Linked DNA regions of Homo sapiens. The protein of the gene in region 3 purifies or fractionates together with the protein of the main gene of each other region. This does not show direct contact. Each region holds a gene or a part of one and is shown on either strand. Other genes may lie near its edges.

What was found.
Region 1: the proteins of OR11G2 (region 3) and SLC26A4 purify together in Homo sapiens (affinity purification with mass spectrometry; one large-scale study listed by BioGRID and IntAct). This does not show direct contact.
Region 2: the proteins of OR11G2 (region 3) and ESRRB purify together in Homo sapiens (affinity purification with mass spectrometry; one large-scale study listed by BioGRID and IntAct). This does not show direct contact.

Annotation. Positions count from the first base shown.
Region 1 is NC_000007.14:107,702,210-107,705,859, forward strand, and holds part of SLC26A4 (pendrin), read left to right. Parts: intron 1-2,121; coding exon 2,122-2,176; intron 2,177-3,650. UniProt on the Homo sapiens protein: Sodium-independent transporter of chloride and iodide. Mediates electroneutral chloride-bicarbonate, chloride-iodide and chloride-formate exchange with 1:1 stoichiometry. Mediates electroneutral iodide-bicarbonate exchange.
Region 2 is NC_000014.9:76,498,095-76,502,445, reverse strand, and holds the end of ESRRB (steroid hormone receptor ERR2), read right to left. Parts: intron 4,233-4,351; coding exon 3,988-4,232; 3' UTR 3,721-3,987; coding exon of another isoform or gene 3,484-3,720; 3' UTR 2,584-3,483; coding exon of another isoform or gene 2,221-2,583; 3' UTR 1,752-2,220; coding exon of another isoform or gene 1,725-1,751; 3' UTR 609-1,724; downstream 1-608.
Region 3 is NC_000014.9:20,193,748-20,197,397, reverse strand, and holds part of OR11G2 (olfactory receptor 11G2), read right to left. Parts: intron 1-3,650. UniProt on the Homo sapiens protein: Odorant receptor.

The DNA.
Region 1 (3,650 bases), on a different chromosome or scaffold from region 3:
GCTCTGGAGCCAGACTACCTGGGGGAGATACTGGCTTCACCACTTACTAGCAGTACGACCCTGGGCAAGTTGCTTAATCTGTCTATATCTCAGTTTCTTCATCTGTAATATGGAGGTAATGATGGTATCTACCTTCACAGGTTGTTACAAGGATTAAATAAGCTAATAGATATAAGGTGTTTAGAAGAGTGTCTGGTTCAGGCTGGGCATGGTGGCTCACGCCTGTAATCCCAGCACTTCGGGAGGCTGAGGCAGGTGGATCATGAGGTCAGGAGTTCAAGACCAGCCTGGCCAATATGGTGAAACCCCGTCTCTACCAAAAATACAAAAATTAGCTGGGCATGGTGGCGCACACCTGTAGTCCCAGCTCCTAGGAGGCTGTGGCAGGAGAATCGCTTGAACCCGGGAGGTGGAGGTTGCAGCTGAGATTGTGCCACTGTACTCCAGCCTGGGTGACAGAGTGAGACTTCATCTCAAAAAAAAAAAAAAAAAAGAATATCTGGTTCAAAGATACTCCCCAGCAAATTAATTCACATTTATTATGTTTTATCTTTCTGAGAATGTATAACAAGTGGTATATGAAAAGAAAAAAATGGGCAAAAGTTTATTAAGTATTACATTTCTATTTGTTATGTTAACAGCAACAGGATAAGGAATACCAGGTGTATGTTAGGACTGGAAAAGCCAGGCATTATTAAGAGGTTAGAGTAGGAAGCAGGTCAGACATCTGGAAGGTCAAAGCAAGAGTTGAGGAGTATGCAGGATAGAAACATTAATGATATCAGAAACCAGTTATGCAAGCTGAAGTTCATTAATTCTGTCAACAAATAGATGTGAAATGCCTAATGTGTACTGAGCACTCTGCCAGGCACAAGAGACTAGTGATGAAGTAGACACAGTTTCTACCTACGTGGGACTTAGCAGTCTGGAGGAGAAGGCAAACATTAAGTCATCTTATAAATAACAATTGTAGTAAGTGCTCCAAAGAAGATGAATAGGACATCACCTGAAGCATCAAGTTCAGTGAAGCTTCAGGTAGGTATCAAAAGGGTCAGGCAGAAAAGTAAGCAGGTCAAGACACCAACAATCAGATGTAATAATATAAAGCTGACTCCTAACTGAGGTTCCACTTAGCTAAGGCTTCTTTGCTACCTCTATAAGGGGAGGAAATGATTCCAGGATGTGGGTACTAGGTAGGTAGGGTAGAGAAGTGATTGTGCTTGGCAAAAGAGTATGAGAATATGCTGACAGGTTCTGTTCTAGTTCTCTTAGCAGATTTTGTTATTAGCTCATTTGAAATCACTCTTGTTCTTTGTTGTACATTTCACTCTAAGCATTGGCTGAGATCCATTGTAGACTATATTGGCCAGAGAGTTCAATGAATTACTTTTGGGGACAGTCTTAACATATTTAATGCCAGAATATTTCCCACACAACGAATATTTACTTTCAAATATTATAATGACAGTTATGATAGCTAAAGAAGACTCCAAACTTTATACTTGAACAGAGGTCTTGATTTGTTTTCCTCCATAATTCTCAAATTCTCTTTTATTATTGACTATGGGTCTTGTGTCTTGACTTTTTAAAATTAAATGTTTATTTTGACATAATTGTAAATTCACATGTAGTTGTAAGGAATAATATTTAGATCCTATATACCCCTTACCCAGTTTCTCCCAATGAGTAACATCTTGTAAAACTGTAGCATAAAATCACAGTAGGACACTGACATTCAAAATAGAGGCCTTGACTTTTAGGTCAATAGTAACATTTTGAACCCGATAAGCATAGCCACACCCATATCTCTTCTCCAATCAGCAGGGCCTATATTAAGAAGCCTCCTGTACTCTCTTCTTTCCACAAATGCTTATTTAGCACCTCCACGCTATCAAGTGCTGTGCTATTGAGCGCTGGATGTTGCCATCTCTTGAGATATAATCCTAATTATACCATTACTGTAGTTTGAAAACCTCCATGGTTTTGCAATAATAACCTTTCCTTAAAGTCCTGATTAACCATGAAAGTAATAATGTTTCTCCTGAGCAAGTAACTGAATGCTACTGAATTATGGGCAGATAAGGTTGTTAATTGTTACAAACTCTCCTTTTTTATTTTTAGATTGTCAAAGAATTCCAAAGAATTGATGTGAATGTGTATTTTGCATCACTTCAAGGTAAATACATATATCTACATATCTACCTGTAAGACTTTCCCGTAAGCCCTTTCTCCTATCTGGGACTGTGGTCACATTATGTCTGAAGGCCTTTTTTTTTTTTCTTTTAAAGATCTCAATTGTCATTATTTGCAGTTCTGGAATCTGGCACTGCTTCATTCCATAAAACAGAATAAGTGTTCCAAGGAACTAAGCAGGAGTTCAGTATTATACACAGAAAAGGCCAAAGACAGCAAAAGCAAGCAACAAAGAGTATATTAGTCCATTCAAAGTTACTTTCTTGTAAGTCAGAGACAGTGAGACAGAACAATAGGAAAATAATGGATTAGTTAACATGAGGTCATGTCAGGATACTTTTTTGTATGAGGATTATTGCAGAGGAAGCTTTATTATTATGCCAACTGGAAATTTAAACTGTCCTGTTTTAGGAAATTTGCTATTACCTCTCTCTCCTGATTTCTTCAAGTATCAGATAACAATTTAGTTTAGGTTTGATAACTTGAAACTTTAGCATGAGTGACTCCATTTTGATTTTTAGTCTTGTCTGTTGTCGTCTAGTGCGGGAGCTTAGTCTAAAACAATGGCCTTTTATTTTTATTTTTTATTTTACTATGTGCCTGTGCCTTGCATGACCCCAGGATGGGCACAGCTGCTTGGCCCCTGAGCCACCGAAGGCTGCTCTACTCCTTCGTTCTGGCTACTAAAAGCTGCAAAGCTCTGGGAGGGCAAAGCTCAAGAAGACTAAAACAATGGCCTTTACCATTTTTGTTTGATGATTTTCCCCGTTTTGATCAGGCTCTCACCTAGGTAAGAGTGAACAAAATGTAGGAGATCAGTGCTACTCTGTTACCATCATTTTGGGTTTCTGGTCTCAGGAGGTCATGTGTAGCTTATGGTGCCCTCCTCATTATCATGTATGTCTCTGAGTTTTTGTTGTTTCAGAGAGAGACCATTCGATGTCTGACAGGTGGCTTTTTGGAAACATTTAAAACTTTGAGAGGGTATAATGTACCAGGAAGACTGCTATTATGACTATCAGGGAGATAATACCAAGGGTTTATAGTATGCTCCTTAGCCAGGATTCTCATGAATCAAACCAACTAAAATTGAATAGCCTGACAAGGAGACTACCTGTTTTAACCAAGAAGTCTTCTCTGTAGTACCTGATGTATTTATATATGTGGAACAAGAAGTGTCACCCAACTGCACAGATGCTTCCTTGTTGAGTTAGCAGGTAATCTAGCATTCCATGACTGGTTAAATTAAAGCAGAAAGTGTAAGTTACCCAAAGAAGCTACTCATTGTGAAGTTTTAACTACAGCACTATCCTGCCAAGTGAAAGAGGTAGGCACAAGTAAGGGAAAATTAAAAGGGATAAGCATCTTATGATAGGGAGTCTTGTTCTGACAGTCTTGGAGCTGTCTACAGCATGAAGTTGACAACTTCTTGTTTTGGTTTGTAGTTTTATTGTCTC
Region 2 (4,351 bases), about 56 Mb from region 3:
AGAACTGGGGGAATCGGAAAAGCTGAACCATAACCCTATTGACTTTGTAAACCCCTGGATCAAACCCTGCCTGATGCCTACCCCACTTCCGGACTCACATATAAATCCAGTAAGCCAGTATAAGCTAAGGTAACTTTTACTTGAAACAAAAGGCATCTTGAAATGTCTTCTTTGATCTCTTTCAGGCCCTCCCCTCTGCTTCTCACTGGTCCTGAGTGTGTCCTGGAATAACATGTGGGCTGTGCTATCCGGTGTTGTGTGTGTCACAGATGCAATTCAAAATCCTAAGGTAATGAATTGGTTTTCATTCACATATATCTGATATCTCATTTCTCTGGCATTAATGAAAGTAATCGATTGCCTTACCATTAATATTAAAAGCATAAAAGCAACAGGGAGCTTCTCAGACCTGCAGCATACTTCTCCAGTTGCATTCCTGAGCTTTGCTGGTGAACATGTTTTAAAATGACACCATGGGACTTCCCAGGGAACACTAAGGCTGGGTTGCCTCTCCCAACGGCCTCTCCTAGCCTCAGCCTGAAACCCAAGGGCAGTGCTGTCTGGGGGACAGTCAGCCCAGAAAGACAATGTGTGAAGAAACTCAATAGTTCCTTTCCTTATTTATTAGATTCCAGATACATGGGACCAGGATGGAAGCATCCTAGGGCATTTGATTTACATGGGGGTTTCTGGGAGAACATATACAGAGGCAGAAAGACATACAAGTAGGTGATGCTGCAATGGGGAACTGCCATTTTAAAAAATATATACATCTTAAGAAGCCATTCCAGCCATATTATCATTATTAGAAAATAAAACAATCTTTCCACATAGTGCTTTTCTTTGGTGCTGTTCCGTGAGCATGGACTCTGGACCCTTCAGTCTTCTTGTCACAAGCTGGTCACCCTCCCCTGCCACTTCCATCTGCACAGAGGGAGGGCAGAGTCTATGGGGAAAGGAGGCCCCCCCCACCGACACAGGTGGGTGCAGGTTCCAGCTCCTCTAAGGCGCTGCCATGGCCTCCCGACTCTGCTGGAGTCTTGAGAGCCTCTTACTTGGTTCTTAAAGTGTGGCCCGAGGAAGTTCCCTATATGCAAAGATTGGTTTTCACACATGACGAGTTCACAAAGTGACAAAGCCAGTCTGGAAACTTTAGAACGTATAAGGACAAGGGGACCAAACAAAACCCAGCCATACCACCTTCTCCATGGTTGGATTTTCATGTTTTATTTCTTGGTTCATTTCAAATGACCTGTATCATGAGAGTACAGCTGAGACAGGCTGTTTCCTCTTTACAGATTTTCCAGAAATGGCAGGTTTAGGGTAAACTTGAGATCTGTTCCACTGGGGGAAGGTTCCCCTAAACTCTCCTCACTTCACCACCTTCCACTAAGTCAGTCCTCTCCCTTCCCCGGAGAGGGTCCTCATCTGGCCAGGATTCCAGCTAAGAAGTTGGCCCCTGAACTTCTTTTCTGAGTGTCCAATGGACCCCTTCAGTACCAGGAACTTTCCCATTGGATGGAGTTCCATTGTTACTGACACATTTCCTGTTGTGATCTGAGTTTTAAGTATAAAAGCAGCTTCCACCTCATGGACACCAACCATCAGGACTTCCGCCCCACTCTGCTAGAGGGGCTCTGAAGTGAGGTCACTCGCAGCAACACTAGATCCAGTGAGGTGCAGCTGCCTGGTGTGCAGAACACCCACTTGCTCCAAGCCAGATGTTACATGGTGAGCCAGAGATGCTTTCCCTAGAAAAGACAGACAGCAGATGCCAGCTGGGCATGATGCCCTGCCGCCTGGGTCCTCCAGCTTGAGCAGGAAGTGACAGAGCAGGGTGCTACCTCGGCCCCGCTGCAAGGACACAGCACAGTGAGAGACTGAGGGAGTCCCAAAGCACACACCCCAAGGTCTCTACTGTGAAGGTTTCTCCGGAGCAGAACCTCAGGGCAGAGCCTCTAAACACTGTGCTAGACTTGGTTTGTAGCTGGTGTTCCTTGATGCCAAGAAGGGGCCTTTGCCCCAAATGTGTGCCTCCACCCAAATGAGGGAAGATGGGCTGCATGGAGGGCTAGGGCCGCAGCATCCTGGGTAACGGCTCCAGTGCCTACTCATCAAGTGACTCAGACCCGATTCCCCACAGGCAAGGGGAGCCGGAGGGACACATCACTGGTCTGGGAGGGCTCTTGAAATCCTTAACATTTTCTGTGTGGGACACCATCAGAGAGCTGCTCTGCAGTTTGTGGATTTCAGCCAGCCCTCCCTCCTGTCTGGGATGACCTCAGCACGTCCCAGCCCAGAAGCCCAGGCCGGGAGGTTCCTGGGGTAGAGCCAAGGAGGTGGGACCAGGGCTTCTATGGAAAAGCTGCAGAAAGTTACCTGGCCTCCTGGTGTCCTAGTGCTGGGTGAGATCTGCCTGCCTCTCTCATTGAGGGGGGTTGGACTAGAAGGGCGTGGATTGGGGATCCCCGGGGAGTTGCTCTGATCCCTGCTTGTGAAGGCAGCTGATTGGAAGGGGCATTTTCCATCATGGCTTGACATTCTTTCATCCTTGGGAGATCCTCTAAGCTGCTCTTGGCCAACCTGTGAGCACAAATGGGTGTTCAGGGCTGCCCCTTGAGTTAGTGAAAACTTTCACGGCCATCCACAGAAATAGAGTGACCCACTGTCCCCGTGTGCCTGGGGTAGAGGAGTTTCCTGGGATAAAGAAACGTCCTGGACAAACCAAGACGGTTGGTTACCTGGCACAGCCAGGGGGACTGCAGGGGTCCTGCCAGAGAGCTGGCGTGCTCGCGGTGCCCAGGGGAGCTACACCAAACCTCTGGTAGCCCAAGTGTGGTAGGAGGGCACCCCTCCTGTGGCACTGGTACACTAGCCCTGTGGCATGATGCTGAGTGCAGGGAAGGGAAGCCAGGAAGGATGAGGCAGGCCACCCCGCTGAGTTCCCTCCCTTTGGGGCTCCCCTGCCTACTTATCTCAGCTGCTCGGCCTTTCTGTGCTTGGCAAAGATGAGTCTGGGCCTCTGTCCATCCTGTCCTGATCCTCCCCCCGGGGTGCTCTTGGATGGAGCCAGGCTCCTGAGCTTCTCACAGGCTCACTTGGCCTGGACCTGCCCTTCAGGGAGAGGGGGAAGGCAGGAAGAGGGAGAGGGTTCTTGGGAGGATGGTGTGGTCCCCGCTCTTCTCTGTGCCAGCGCGTTCCTGTCTACAGCCCCTGGAGTCGCTGTGGCTGGCTGAACCCACTGGGTGAGTGAGCTCTGAGGTAGGGTCAGGAAGTAGCGGGGGACTCCCGGGGGGAGGAGAAGAGGAGGAGGACAGGTGGACACCGGCGCGGTGGGTGACAGGCAGGGGGGTAGGCCCCGAGGGGTGGGGTGCCCAGGAAGCACTTGAGCTCTAGCCGCTGCTCTCCTGTGGGTACCCCCTGGCTGAAAGCTGAGTGGAAACTGTGGAAGGTATGGGGCCTCTTGACCGGCCCCAGAGGATCTCAGAGCAGGTAGGACCTCTGGAAGAAAGATACTGTTGTCCCTTGCGTACCTGCCCTCTGCGGAAGGAAAACCTCCAGGTGGTATCCAGCCTGAGCAGTGCCCACCCAGGCCACAGATGGGGGAGGGGGCAAGGGAGTTAGGAAATGCACATGCTGCCTCTTGGTGGCTCGGTGGAGGGGAGAGGGCACTTGCTCCAGTGGCCTCCACTCCTGAAGGGAGTCAGCCCTGGCCCAGGCCTCCGCACCGTCCATGGAGAAGGAAAGACATACCAAAGAAAAAGCCAGTTACAGTCGAGCCCCACACCCCTGCCCCCCCATCCCCGTCCCCCACCCCACTGCACCCGGGAGTCTGCACACAGCCAGGAGGTGAGAAACCCCCGCCTCTGGGACAGCTCAGAGCCATGATACAGGGGTTGAAGGTGGAGGCTGGTGGCTGTGGAGGTCTCCACCTCGGTCTGTCCGTTTGTCTGTCTGTAGGTGGGCATTGGTCCGTGTGCGGGGCCATCACACCTTGGCCTCCAGCATCTCCAGGAAGAGTTTGTGCATGGGCACTTTGCCCTGCAGTTTGACGCTATAGAAGTGCTGCACGGCCTTGGCGGCCGTCTGCCGCAGCAGCGGCAGTGTCAGCAGCAGCTTGCCCGTCCTCCAGGGCTCCTCATGGCGCTGGCTCAGCTCGTAGTCCTGCAGTGCCTCGTGCAGCAGGTCCTGCAGCTTCTGGACAGCCTCTAGATCCTCGATGTACATGGAATCTGCAGGCACAAGGACGAGCATTAGCAGGCTTGGCCAGGGAGTGCTGCCTGGTGTGGGGGCCATCTTGGGGTCCAGGAGGCAGCATGGAGGCAGGCAGGGGTATCTTCAGAACCCTCTC
Region 3 (3,650 bases):
CGGTGCAAACATAGATGGGGAATCAGATTTATATTTAAATCATTTTGGGAAAGAAAATGCATAAATTTACTATTGAAATAAAAGTAAAAAGTAAAAAACAGAATGCAGATATGTCAATAGTCACTTTTTTTCTTTTAAACTGACGTATTGATCTGGATTGATTCTTTGCTCGCGTTCACATTTTTACCATAGGCTCAAGAAAACTTTTGACCAAAATTGATAAGCTGTCATTTACATTTTACTAGGTGTAAAGCCATTATAATTTTCAGGCATGTTTACAACACTTTCCTTCAAGAGCCTTTGTATAAATATATAACAGAATATGTATTTATGGATATATTCTTACACAAATGAATTTCATTTTCAGACGGTGAAATCATTGCAGCTTTTTGTGGCAGAGACTGAGTGAAACTGTGTAGCCATGTAATATGAGACCATAAAACTGTTTGAATTACTTCTTTTATGTCACTTTTGACACTGGCCTTATTCTAAATTAAATGGTTAACTTATTAACTTAATAATATCATTCACTTGTTTCATGAGTAACACAGTCAAATCAATTAGAGGAAATTAGCTGTTGTCAGTTTCTTTTGTGTTAGGACAGCAGTCCTAGCCATCCTCAGTAGACCAGGCTGAAAGAATTAACTGGCCATGCTGAAACACGTCTGTGCTTGCCGTGAAGAATATATAAATTTGCCTAGACTATAGTTAAAGATATAATTCTATTCCAATAATACAAATTATGGATACAATTGATAACATGCAATTCTAAATAACAGTGGGTTTGTAGGCGATATTAGACTAAAGCTGTGGTCCATCTCCCAGTAACCACTTAGGAACATCTCAAGGCAGAGTGGCTTTTGAAGGCTGAATATCTGCATGATGCCTTTCATTTGTTTTAAATGAATTAGAATATCTTTGTGAAACAATCATGTAATCAAGCCTTGGAATTAGTTAGAGCCCTTTCTAAATAAGCGCATAAGTGAGCAAACTAAAGAAAGTTTGTGTCCCTCCTTCTATGTTTAGATCCACATTTTGCTTTTTGAAGTTGGCACAGGGACCCAGGAAGTTTTAAGGTAGCAGAATCTGCTGCCCCTAAACATGCCACTTTGGCATAAGATTATTTCCAGCTGAAGGCAATTGAGAAAAAGCAGATACAAGAAAAGCTCTCTGTCTTCCCCCTATTATTTGCATAGAAACAGGATAACTTTGCAAGGGTAGCCTTCCTCTCCTCTCTACCAGGGAGGACGAGGTAAAATTACCAGAGACAACTGTAAACCCTTTCCGCCTGGAGATGGCACCAGAGGAATCTATATAACAATTTTTACCAACTTTAGTCTGTATCTTCCATTAGTTTGTCCATAATATTTATTTTCCCACAGTTTCCCACCCTAGAAATGCAAAGTCCTTTTTCTTTGTCTTGTCACTTCTCTAAAAAAATTATTATTCTTTAGCTGAGATGCTATGTAAGCCTAACTTCTAACCACACCTTTGAGTTACTCATCTCCCAGTGCTCCCATGTGTATTTATGATGCGTATGCTCATAAACTTATGTTTGTTTTTCTCTTGTTGATTTGTGTTTTGTCAGTCTTACTTATAAGGCCCCAGCCGAAGAACCTAGATAGGAGAAAAAAAATTTTTTCCTCCCCTGCAGAGTCTACTAATTTCTTAGCAGAATATTTAAATTCTGTATAACTTATAAGACCAAAAACAAAAGATGCCGGCAGCAAGTTGACATCCTTTTCAAGTACAGATGTGAGTACTTAGAGGTTTATGTTGGAAGAATTCAGTTTTGTTGGTGATGGGGTGAACTGAGGGAGAAATTTTAACACAATCCATAATGATTTATTTATTTATTGAGATGGAGCCTTGCTCTGTCACCCAGGCTGGAGTGCAGTGGCACAATTGCAGCTCACTGCAATGTCCGCCTCCTGGGTTCAAGCAATTCTCGTGCCTCAGCCTTATGAGTAGCTGGGATTACAGGCACAAGCCACCAGCCCGGCTAATTTTTGTATGTTTAGTATAGATAAGTTTCATGTCATGTTGGCCAGGCTGGTCTTGAACTCCTGACCTCCAGTGATCTGCTCCCTTCGACCTCCCAAAGTGCTGGGATTACAGGCATGAGCCACTGCGCCCAGCCACATAATTTTTTAAAACACCCTATAGGTCATTTGTAACTCAGGATTCCCTAATTCCCGTGACATGGAGGATGCCTGGAGACAAAAGAGTCTCCACAGTTTCTGTCAGACTCTATTTTAACATATATAAGCAAAATAAGGATTAAATGTACTTGGCTTTTGGTGGGAATAGGGTGGAATAGGTTCTGGTAACTGTACCATAAACTTCTATTTTCTATAAGTTTTTTCTTTTCTGCTTCTCCACTTTTAAAGTCATTTGTTTAGGGGCCCAGAAAACTTCTGAGACTGCATATTTATCTTTTATAAAGGGAACTCAAAGCAGACAGTGGACGGGTCTAATTATTTTCTAAAATAAAGTCACTCTGCACCAGTTTCACTCATGATTAAGGACATTAAGCATTTAGTCATTTCTATGTCACACCTTTGCCTTTGTAGGGTGTTTTAAAAGTTACCTTAGCTTCACACGAGCCATTCATGGCTAATGAATAAAACTAATGAATTACTAATGAATAAAAACACACAAAAAAGAATTCTGCTATGATGTGTGAAGGTCCTTCATGTTTTCTAAAAAAGATTAAGTGTATATGACTAGTACTAATTCAGAGGAATATAACTTTATTATGATCAATTAAGAACAACTCTTACTAATAATGCTTAGGCATTTTTGACCAGGATTTTTTTGCTAGTGTTCCTAAAATTTTATTTTAGGGGTAAGCATCTGCTCAACAGTCGAATAATTTGACTTCTTGGATTAAATGTTTAATCAATTTTTTTCTGATGGAACTTATTTCAATGTAGTATCTCCTTCTTTTCCTCTACCCTCACATCTCATTCACAAATAATTCCTTTTAGTTTTGTCTCAAAAATAAGTCTCATGTCTGCTCACTTCTCCCCATCTCCACTGCCAACATCCTAGTTCAAGCTATTCTCTTTTCTCCCCTGGACCATGTGATGCTGCTGTTCTAACTGGCTTCCTGTTTCCACTCTTGCCTGTCTGTAACTTGTTTTCCATGCCACAGCCAGAGTAACTCCTTAAAGAAAGAAAATCAGACCAGTTCCTTTCCTTGCACATAGATTTCAATTAGCTTCCCAATGCTCTTTGAATAAAATAAAACTTTGAAAATGTAATCTTTGGTTTGACCCTTCATAATATTTCCAACATCATCTCATGATTCTATTATTCAAACTTTCTCTCTCTCACACACATACACACAAACACACACTCTGTTGTACAAAGTAGGCACAAAGATGCTCCACTAACACAAGCGCTGCAAATATAAAATAAGGATTCACTGGAGAAAACACTCGCAAGCAGAGGGTAACAGAGTGTACATCATTCCCTGGGCTCTCCTGCTCCCACTGAGGGGTGTGCACGTTTGGACTACACACACACTAGCCAACAATTCCATACCGAGGGATTCCATCTCTGTGATACTCACACCAGGGTCAGCAAACATTTTCTTAAATAGTTTAGTCTCATGGGCTCTATAGTCTCTGTCAAAACTACTCAGC